Homo sapiens: one gene and its partners. The protein of the gene in region 1 interacts with the protein of each later gene in a biochemical or structural test. Each region holds a gene or a part of one and is shown on either strand. Other genes may lie near its edges.

The links.
Region 2: the proteins of BACH1 (region 1) and ATF1 interact in a test that uses a peptide from one of them, tested with the Homo sapiens proteins (one large-scale study listed by IntAct).
Region 3: the proteins of BACH1 (region 1) and BATF interact in a test that uses a peptide from one of them, tested with the Homo sapiens proteins (one large-scale study listed by IntAct).

What each region holds. Positions count from the first base shown.
Region 1 is NC_000021.9:29,301,849-29,305,501, reverse strand, and holds part of BACH1 (transcription regulator protein BACH1), read right to left. Parts: intron 299-3,653; exon of another isoform or gene 180-298; intron 1-179. UniProt on the Homo sapiens protein: Transcriptional regulator that acts as a repressor or activator, depending on the context. Binds to NF-E2 DNA binding sites. Plays important roles in coordinating transcription activation and repression by MAFK.
Region 2 is NC_000012.12:50,767,000-50,770,652, reverse strand, and holds part of ATF1 (cyclic AMP-dependent transcription factor ATF-1), read right to left. Parts: exon of another isoform or gene 3,500-3,653; intron 1-3,499.
Region 3 is NC_000014.9:75,542,853-75,546,505, reverse strand, and holds part of BATF (basic leucine zipper transcriptional factor ATF-like), read right to left. Parts: intron 45-3,653; coding exon 1-44. UniProt on the Homo sapiens protein: AP-1 family transcription factor that controls the differentiation of lineage-specific cells in the immune system: specifically mediates the differentiation of T-helper 17 cells (Th17), follicular T-helper cells (TfH), CD8(+) dendritic cells and class-switch recombination (CSR) in B-cells.

The DNA of each region.
Region 1 (3,653 bases):
AAGGTGGCCCAGCCTTTCTGGGGTCTGGAAAAAGACAAACTAGTCCAAAGACAGGAGGCCCTCAGAGACAAAATATACTTTTTAGAAATCTAAAAAAAAATACCTATAGTTTGAATAGCACTTGTGACAGTCTTTTACCACAAAGAGACAACGAAGTAGGGAAAGTTAATCGTAATTACATGCTCATCCCCAAGCAGCATTTCCTTTGACTTCTCTGGATGACAACTGAAACTGAAGGCATGCCAGCAAAGAATCCGAGTGAGCTGGGCAAAATGCTCTCTACTTCAACAGTCTTTTGCTAATGTGAAAGAAAAAAAAAAAAACAAGATTACAAAAGCCAAAAGCTTTTTTTTTTCTTACCTCTTTTAACCTGAATTATGACTCTTACCTAGGGGAGTACCCAAGGCCAGGCTGAGATACACCTCAGAAAAACAGTTGATAAAGAGACATCAGGTACACTGGAAATTGAAGAGGCCTGGGCCAAGATCAGATAACCACTGTACATTTTTTAAAATAATATTTAAATATAAAATACACATTAATGAAATTACAACCTAATAAATTTATTCAATCTTTTATAGCCACATATTTTATAACAAAACTGTCTGATGGATGAGCAACTGCACTAATTTAGCTGACTTCTGAAAGACGCTGGCACACTTTAGAAAATGAATAAGGCAATAAGCATGTGAAGATATCAGTAAAGAGGAAGTTGGGTGGATAGGTCGCCCTATTTCTTCAATAGGACCCTCAGGAGTTCACCTCCTTAGGACAAAAACACCTCCCTAGGGTCCTGGAGGCAGACAAATCAATAAAAAGAAGAGATAACTGGAAAAAAGGTGTGTAGGGGGAGGGAGGGACATTTCCCTTACTATACTATTTACTCTACAGCCTTAGAGGTAGGCTATTACTAATGTCCAGGCTACAAAGGAATTGAAAACCTTTTTTAGTGTAATTCCACTTTAATGAGGGATGGGGAAGTAGAGTGCAACTGTCCACTGACTGATCTGATCTAAAAAAATGATAAATTTAAAAAGTGAAAAAAACTTTACCTGAAAGAAACTGGGAATAATTAGGGGCCAGGCACAGTGGCTCACGCCTGTAATCTCAGCACTTTGGGAAGCCAAGGCGGGTGGATTGCTTGAGGTCAGGAGTTCGAGACCAGCCTGGCCAACATGGTGAAACCCATCTCTACTAAAACACAAAAATTAGCTGGGCATGGTGGGGGGTGCCCCATAATTCCAGCTACTACGGAGGCTGAGGCAGAAGAATTGCTTGAACCCAAGAGGCGGAGGTTGCAGTGACCCGAGATCGCGCCACTGCACTCCAGCCTGAGCGACAGAGTGATACTCCATCTCAAAAAAAAAAAAAAGAAAAAAAAAACTGGGAATAACTAGTTTATTACAAAAATATTAGTTTGAACGATGACTTTCCTAAGGCACTGCAAAAAGTGTTTACATTTATTTTTCAAATAACATGATCTGCACAAAATTTCAGCTGCATTAATGTAACATTTTCTAAATTGTGCCCGTACTGAGAAGGAACCAGCTGCCAGCCAATTTCACTGCATGCCCACTGTGTTTCTACACTGGTCATTAACAACCAAGATTCTGGCTACCACTATTTCTTCTTCCTCACGTTTGCTTCAGGGCAGTTTTTTATTATCCTATGAATATTTGAATATTTTCTAACCTGTCCCTGATCCTAAATAAAACAAAGAACCTGTTCTAGAGGAGTGATATTCAAAGTATTAGACATATAAGACATTTAACATCTAGAAAACCAAATTATATTTTGCTCAATTCAATTCTAATCCAATTATGGGTAAAAATAAGTCACAAGACAAGTTTTATGTCTATCTTAGGAGATGAACTAGAATTACTTAATTCCAGCTGCCTTCTCAATAATCACACCAATGATAAAAACAGAAAGTAGAAAGCTAAATAATCAAAAGAATTTCAACTCAGTGCACACTTACAAGGTACCACACACGATGTTCTCTCCTTCAATCTGTTAAACATTCCCAAGTTTCAAAATCACAGAACTAGAATGAACGCATATCATACCACCCAGTTCAGCAACCAACAGTTTATTAAAGAAACACAGCCAAGGCACATTCAGAGTGCCATAGGAGATAAAACAGAAAGACACAGATTCTCACCATCAGGAAACTTACAATCTGGCTGAAAGAATGGTCAAAATAACACAACCTTTCTGAATTACTAACAGGTACAAAAAGCTATACGATAAATATGTCCATTGTATTCATATCCATTTCATGGATAATTTTTCTGTATTAGTACAGGCATATCATCTAAAGAAAACATAATACTTAGAAGAAACTAATTAGCTTACAAATTTACATTCTAAATGTTTCCAACAAACTGGATAGGGCCCAGGAATATGTACTGAGAAACTAGTTCTGTTCTGGTATTAACAAGAAGGGAGGGGTGGACAGGTTACTAAAGCTGCCAGGCCACAATGTCAACTACAACGTGGAAAAGACTAGCCAAAGAATGGCAAGTGTTTTTATTTCGTAAAAGCCAGTTTCAATTAACTGGTTAGTGACTACCTCAAGCACTCCGCTGAGACTGTTAAGATTCCTTTAAGTAAAAAGCTATGTCCTGTGTTCGTTGCCCTCAGAAGTTGGATGTATGTTTGAGATGGTGCTACTGACTTAACATAAGAGTGTTCCCCGGGTTGTTTTTCCAGTCTCACTTGTGATCAATGCCGGCAATTCAGCTCTCAACAGCTATAAAACACTACTGTGTAACTAAGTACTTCCCTGATTCTGAACAACAGATAATAACACCTAACACTTGATGTTTCTTATAAAGCTGGCACTGTTCTAACCACTTACCCCGTATTAACGCATATAATCCTCACAACAACCTCTCTGATACAGATTCTACTATCACCACCCCTGTTTTACAGAGGAAACAATGAGGCACTAGTTACCAGGTAGAAGAGCTTGCCCAAGGCTTTAAAGTGGGTGACACAACCAGAACCTGACCTTAAGCAGTCTGGCTCCAGAACTACTTTTTAACCATTCTGCTTACTGCTTCTTTGTCAACTGTACAGTGATCAAACCCAGACTTCAGTTATGTTAGTGCACTGTGTAAGCCAGGTGCCTGGGCTTCAGGAGAGTGTAAGTCAATGTTTTAGCTGCAGTCCTGAAATGTTTACTCCCTCCAAGGGGCACGGATTCTGGCGAATTGCACTCAAATTACCCATACCTTGGCCATCGGTACATTACCTCATTTGACATATATTTTAAATCAAAACAATCTCAAAAATCATCGTTCCACCACATAAAATAAACCCTCTGTCTAGAATGCTCAGGGAATGCAGGTTTTAGGGTTAAGACAATTCTCTCATTAACAGAACATTAGTCAGAAAATTAGAAGAGAGGTGGTGATTCCTAAAACGTAAGTCATGGAGAGATCAGCACTATGAAGAGAAAATCTGACAAGTGGTAATTTTAACGGGCTTTGCAACTGTTATTCTGAGCATCACCTCTCACAGTACAGGGGTGTAGAAGGCACATGGCACATGAGATTTAACTGAATGGTAAATACTAACCACCCTCACCGCCGCCACCCGCCCCCAGCACTAGTAGGAGGTTGATATTCTGAATAAATGCCACTTCCCAA
Region 2 (3,653 bases), on another chromosome or scaffold:
TAAGACTGACTTGCTTTATTATACTTGGCCTGATTGTTTGTATAAAGTGCAGCAAGAATAATAATTTTTCACATAGGCTTTTTAATTGGCTTTGATGGAACTCTGTTTCATAAGGAATCTCAGATAAGACTTTTTTAAAAGCCAAGCCCTGACATGGGTTTGTACCCTTAAATACCTATAACTTGGGTAAATTTCTCTCCTTTTGAGGTCCCAAGATAACTTGGGGCTCCTGGACAGGTGAGAAAGTGACATTCTTTACTTACCATAGGTCAGAAACCCTGTACAGGCACTGTGTAGGCAAGGTATGAGGCCAGTTCCCCAAAGGGCTTTTATTGGCTCTACAAGTCAAGTTTGATTCCTTAAAGAAAAGCACACCATTTCAGTCAAAGCCTTGGTAAAATAACCACTTTCTCCAATTGTATTCTGTTACAAAAGAAAACAGATTCTTATTGCACTTATGCAAATAATTACATTGCCATAAGTTAAGAATACTCACAACTAGTTTCCAAATTCTGGAGAAATCTGATATAGAGAAACAAATATGTTCCAAATTTCGTTCACAGCAGTATACTTTACTCAATTGCTATGAACTGTAAATAGCTCAAATGAAAAGTTTCCTTGACTCTGAAAAACAAAACAAAGGATCAGCAACATTTTAATCAAAGATTACTTCAGTTTTCTATTGGTTCAGTTGATTCAATTAACTCATGTTTCATTTGATATTCATGAACATTCTAGCTCTTCATGAGTTCTGAAAGTTGTTTCCTCTATTCTAATGTTACAATTTCCAAAGTTATTAGAAACCTGCATTTAAGAACACCTGCTAGAGTTCTATAGCTGATTATAAATCATCTTCTAAACAGGATTAAAACAAGACAACAATTGTCTGTGGATGATAAAAAGTTTTAGGAGAGCCACTATTAAAGCCAGAAATGATAAGGAAATTTGGTTACTTCTGTGGCACACAATATTTTGCATAACAATTATAATTATTAATAACATACACTAAATCATATTAGAATTATAGGAGTTTCCCATAACTTTGGAACATATACCAATAATACAGTTATGTAAATATAATCCAAAGAAAGCAAAACACCATTTGACATTTGATAATGCTTCCTGTATGAATTTTTTTTTTTTTTGAGATGGAGTCTCGCTCTGTCACCCAGGCTGGATAGAGTGCAGTGGTGCAATCTCAGATCACTGCAACCTCCCCCTCCCAGGTTCAAGCGCTTCTCCTGCCTCAGCCTCGAGTAGCTGTGACTACAGGTGTGCGCCACCATGCCCGGCTAACTTTTGTATTTTTTGATAGAGATGGGGTTTCACCATGTTGGCCAGACTGGTCTCAAACTCCTAACCTCAGGTGATCCATCTGCCTCGACCTCCCTAAGTGCTGGGATTACAGGTTTGAGCCACTGTGCCCGGCCAACTTAGAATAATTATTTAACTCTTTAGCCAAAAAACCCCACATTTCCATGCCTTCTTATAATCTTTTACCAAAAGTACATTCTATTTTCCTTACTACACACCTTACATGTAAAACTGTCTCTTCAATAGTCTCAGTTACATGTTCCAATTTTAACTTTTAGCGACTTTTACTTTTGGTGAAAACCCTGGTTAGTAAGCAATTTTAATTATGTACTAGGTGTGGAGCCTAGCCTAGGACACACCAGGCAGAAGTGCAGATAAGAGCTGACTCTCCAGCACAGCTTAGGGGCGTGGCTAACTCCACATGTCCCCAGGCCTTATCTAGAATCTAATGGCTTTAAGGTAGGGTAAATTGAACAATTTTTAAAAGTCAAAGAAACAGTTTATGACCTCAAATCATTTAACAAACTTAATATCTGACCTGCATAATTAAGATTAACATTTTTATCAATTTTAAAGATGTGTTTATTTCCTAAAGATTACTAAAGTTACATGAACTAAAAGGCATTAGTTATTTTGCTTTCAAAATATTTGATTTAAATGTTTATTTTTGTTTAAGCTGATTAATCAGAGCTCTTTTATATAAATATTACACACGACACCTATATAGCTACACAGAAAGACAGATGATGATGATAACAGTGGTTGTAAGATTTTTCATTTGCCAGTTTTTAAGTTTCTTAATTGGATTACCGGCTTCAGGGTGGAGCCCTTGGAAGAACAGGGCCACGAAAGGGGTCTCTGGTGCCTCTTGTTTTTCCCAAGGAGTCCAGGCTGTTAGAGCTTGAATATCCACTTTTAATTAAACTTATTTTAACCATAGCACTCTTTAATAAAGTCCTTTTAGAAGTTTTTATGCCAAACGGCTGGTATTTCTGGCTTTTGAATTTTATCAAAGGTAACCTCCCAGGTGCTTAGAAAAAGGAAAATATAAGACAGTTCACAGAGGAGAAGAGAATAGACAAAGTCATGCAGATATTAAACCAGAAACGACTTACTTCCTAGGTGGGTAATTGAACCTGGACTGTTGCCACGGAAGTGCAAAAGCTGGCTGGGTGCGGTGGCTCATGCCTGTAATCCCATCAGTTTAGGAGGCTGAGGCAGGTGGATCACCTGAGGTCAGGAGTTCGAGACCAGCCTGCCCAATATGATGAAACCCCATCTCTACTAAAAATACAAAAATTAGCTGGGCGTAGTGGCACACACCTGTAATCCCAGCTACTTGGGAAGATGACGCAGGCAAATCACTTGAACTCGGGAGGCGGAGGTTGCAGTGAGCTGAGATCGCACCACTGCACTCCAGCCTGGGCGACAGAGCAAGACTCCATCTCAAAAAAAAAAAAAAAGAAAGTGCAAAAGCTTAGCTACTGAGCTACAGCACAGGGCAGTCTCTGTTGACCTTCCCAGAAGGAGTCTAGAGTAGTTAATTTTGAGCTTATAAGGGCTTTTAACTATTTAATATTATTTTTAGAGCTAACTATGACATGAATCCTGAAATTCCTGTTCTCTGAAGGTGGGGACCAAAAGAAAGTACCACCACATGGTTAAAAGGTCAAGCTCCCAAGGACGTAAAACAAGGTGGAGACTTCATCCAGTCTTTTATTTGTTACAGGGACCTGCAGCCAAGTATCTTACTGACCAGCTTGCTGGGTCATCTTGAAAAGCGAGCTTACAGGTGTTCTTTTTTTTCTTTTTTTGAGATGGACATGGAGTCTCGCTCTGTTGCCAGGCTGGAGTGCAGTGGCACGATCTCGGCTCACTGCAACCTCCGCCTCCCGGGTTCAAGTGATTATCCTGCCTCAGCCTCCCAAGTAGCTGGGACTACAGGCGCACGCCACCACACCCAGCTAATTTTTTGTATTTTTAGTAGAGATAGGGTTTCACCATGTTGGCCACGGCTGGTCTCAAACTCCTGACCTCAGGGGATCCACCAGCCTCAGCCTCCCAAAGTGCTGGGATTACAGGCCTGAGCCACCGTGCCAGGCTGATTTTTTTTTTTTTAACCATTCACTTAACCATTTGTACAGTGAGAGAGAAGCCAGAAATCTGACTGGTAATACATTCTTACCCTTTTGCCAGCATCCCAGGCTTCTGGGTTCCCTTTCCCTTAGTGGTCCTAGTGTTCAAGCTTGCAGCATCATTGCCCTGGGGGCCAAGCCGTATCATAAAGGAAAATTATGTTTTTTCCATTCTGGCCAGAGCAAAATACGTGTGATAAAACA
Region 3 (3,653 bases), on another chromosome or scaffold:
TCCTTGCGTAGAGCCGCGTTCTGTTTCTCCAGGTCTTCGCTCTCCTGTAGGGGTGGGGATCAGCACCGGAGGTTAGTGTCTAGGAAGGAGGCAAGGTGGGTGGGGTGCGGAGGGACACAGGAGGGGCCAGATTAGTTGTTCACTAGCACAGCCATGGAGAAGGGCACCAGAGAATTTTCCTGCACGTGTGAATGTGTGCACAAGTGTATATATGTTTGTAGGTGTGTATGGGCGCGTTTACGTAAGCACATGGGTGGGTGTGCATGTATACACATAGATATGAGGCTGAACCACGTGAAGCTGCTGATATTTGTCTGTTGTGACCTATAAGAATAGCAATTTCAGGCCGGGCGCGGTGGCTTACCCCTGTAATCCTAGCCCTTTAGGAGGCCGAGGCGGGCGGATTGCCTGAGGTGGGGAGTTTGAGACCAGCCTGGGCAACGTGGCAAAACCCTGTCTCTACTAAAATACAAAAACAGAAATTAGCTGGGTGTGGCAGTGCGCCTGTAGTCCCAGCTACTCAGGAGGCTGAAACAGAAGCATTACTTGAACCAGGGAGGCAGAGGTTGCAGTGAGCCGAGATTGAGCCACTGCACTCCAGCCTGGGCAACACAGCAAGACTACATCTCTCCTCCCGGCAAAAAAGCAATTTCATATGGTTCAACCTGATAGAGGGGTGTGTGTGAGTGTGTTCCTCTGCGTGTATGCATGTAGGGGTCTCTGTGAGGGTGTGTGGGTGGGAGGTGGCGGGAATACAGCAAGGGAAAGCAGCTGGCAGGCCAGAGCCTAAGGAAATGGAAGGTCGTTTGTGAGAACGTCTTACACCAGTTTCACTCTTTTCCACTGTGTTATGCCACGTGTTTTCCAAAAGCTCCCGGTGTCTGCATTTCGTCTTACAAATAAAGTCACTGGATACTTGTCTACTGCACCCAGATTCTAGAATGCTCAGGGTCTTTATAAATAGTAAATGGGGCCAGGTGCGGTGGCTCATGCCTATAATCCTAGCATTTTGGGAGGCGGAGGTGGGTGGATCACCTGAAGTCAGGAGTTCGAGACCAGCCTGGCCAACATGGTGAAACCCTGTCTCTAAAAATACAAAAAAAAAAAAAAAAAAAAATTAACCAGGCGTGGTGGTGCACACCTGTAATCCCAGCTACCCGGGAGGCTCGGGGAAGAGAATTGCTGAAACCCAGGAGGCAGAGGCTGCAGTGAGCCGAGATCATGCCACTGCACTCCAGCCTGGGTGACAAAGCAAGACTCCATCTCAAAAATAAAAATAAAAATAAAAATGAAATAAATAAATACTAAATGGTCAAAGTCTGCTACAACGTTTTGTTCCACCCTGTCCGGCCTACCAGAAAGCATTCTGACGGTATTTTGGGGGTGTCCCAAGCCTGTGAGCTTCTCTTTTTTCTGGAAACTCTTTTCCCTGTTGCTTGGGGGAACCATCAAATACATGCTAATCAGAAAAATGCCTGCTAAGAAGTGCTGATTTCTGATCACATCATTAATTAATCAACAATTGCAATCTGGTAATTAGCAATTATGGAAAAGCAATCCCATCCTCAGAAAGCCCAGGAGATCGCAATTCCGGTATAATTTTAAGGTTTACATTATTCGACTCAACCAAACAGACTTTCTCTGCTAAGCATTGGTAACCACAGAGGAAAGGCAAATATCATTGGAGATGCAAAAAAAAAAAAAAAAAAAAAATTTCAGTTCAAAAGGCAACCTGATATTTGGAGACCAGGTCTTACCTTTCTAAATCTATTTGGATTAGGTCAGTATTTCCCAAACTTGCCATATCATGAGAATTAATTTGAAGGCTTGTTAAGAATAGAATTTCAGGCCCATCCTAAAATCTAGGAATGTGAATCAGTGGTTTTGGGATTTGCGGAGTGAAGTCTGCAGATCTGAATTTTTTTTTTTTTTTTTTTTTTTTTGAGACAGTCTCACTCTGTCACCCAGGCTGGAGTGCAGTAGTGTGATCTTGGCTCACTGCAACCTCTGCCTCCCAGGTTCAAGCAGTTCTCCTGCCTCAACCTCCCGAGTTGCTGGGATTACAGGCAGGCACCACCACGCCTGGCTAGTTTTTGTATTTTTAGTAGAGACGGGGTTTCACCATGTTGGCCAGGCTGGTCTTGAACTCCTGACCTCAGGGGATCTGCCCACCTTGGTCTCCCAAAGTGCTGGGATTACAGGCGTGAGCCACCATGCCTGGCTGCAGAGCTGAATTAAAAAAATAATAATAATTTTTTTTTTAAATCCTAGCCACTAGACTACTAGGGAGTGAAATTTGGATTTTTAACTAGTGCCACAGGTCATTCTAATGATCAGGCAAGTTGGAAAGCACTAGTTAAATATTATTTTAAATTTGTTTTAATTATTCAAGCACTTATTAAATGCCTATTTGTTAATGCCTGGCTCAATGCCTGGCACATAGTATGAACTCAGATGTTTGTTGACTGACAGACTTATGACATCATCTGCTGGAATGAAGAAGGTAACTCAAAAATAGGGTGGGTGGTGAGCAGATGTAAGATAACTTGACATTTAAAATTTGCCCTAAATAGGCTGGGTGCAGTGGCTCACACCTATAATCCCAGCACTTTGGGAGGCCGAGGTGAGAGGATCGCTTGAGCCCAGCAGTTTTTTGGTTTTTTGGGTTTTTTTTTTTGAGACAGTCTTGCTCTGTCTCCCAGGCTGGAGTACAATGGTGCGATCTCAGCTCACTGCAACCTCTACCTCCTGAGAGCCCAGGAGTTTAAGACCAGCCTGTGCAACATTATTGAGACCCAGTATCTACAATAATAAAAATAAAAGAAAATTAGCTATGGAGCACCAGGGGTTGGAGGCTGCAGTGAGCCATGATCATGCCACTGCACTCCAGCCTCACTGATGGAGTGAGGTCCTCTCTCAAAAAATAAAATAAAATAATAAAATAAAATTTGCCCTAACGAATCCATCAGGTGCATGAGCTGTAGGCTAATGAGGTTAATCGGTTATACTGTCAATCATCTTAAACCCCACATCCTGGGGGGGGTCTTTCTAAATGGCAGAGAAGCATATACCAACATGGCCTTGCTCATCAAGCCAGGTTCCATCATCTGTGAAGGACAGACACAAGCATGCTCAGCCTCAACCTGGCATTTCTTGAATGGGGCTCTGAGCTAGAAAGTGTGCCAAGGTCAGTACAAAGGAAGCCCCTCTAAAACGGGGCAGAGGAGTTATCAAGAGCCACGATGATGGAGTCACAGCCCTGCCTTCTGCAAGGTGTGGCCGGCTCATTCATTTTACCATTTGGGTATTTCCTGGCACATCCCAGAAGGAGGGCATCCCCTCTTTACCGAAAGGTAAGATCAAGCAACACGATGAGACTAGGGGGTGTTGGTAAGACGGGAACTGGGGGCCGGGAGTCCTGGCTCCTTCCTCTAGCCCTTTTCTTCGCCCCCTCTGAGAGTTTCCACTGGTGACAACATTTACTGTAAATTCTGTGCTCTGAAGAGCCTGGGCAAACCCCGAGGCAGAAGGGAGGGCCACTCTGACCTTCTCCCCGCCTAGAGGCTGGCCCAGCTTTCGGGAAGTGACAGCGGGTCCTTCCTCCCTAAGCAAGCTCTGCTGAGCTCACTCTAGCTCTGTCGTCTGCCTCCCCC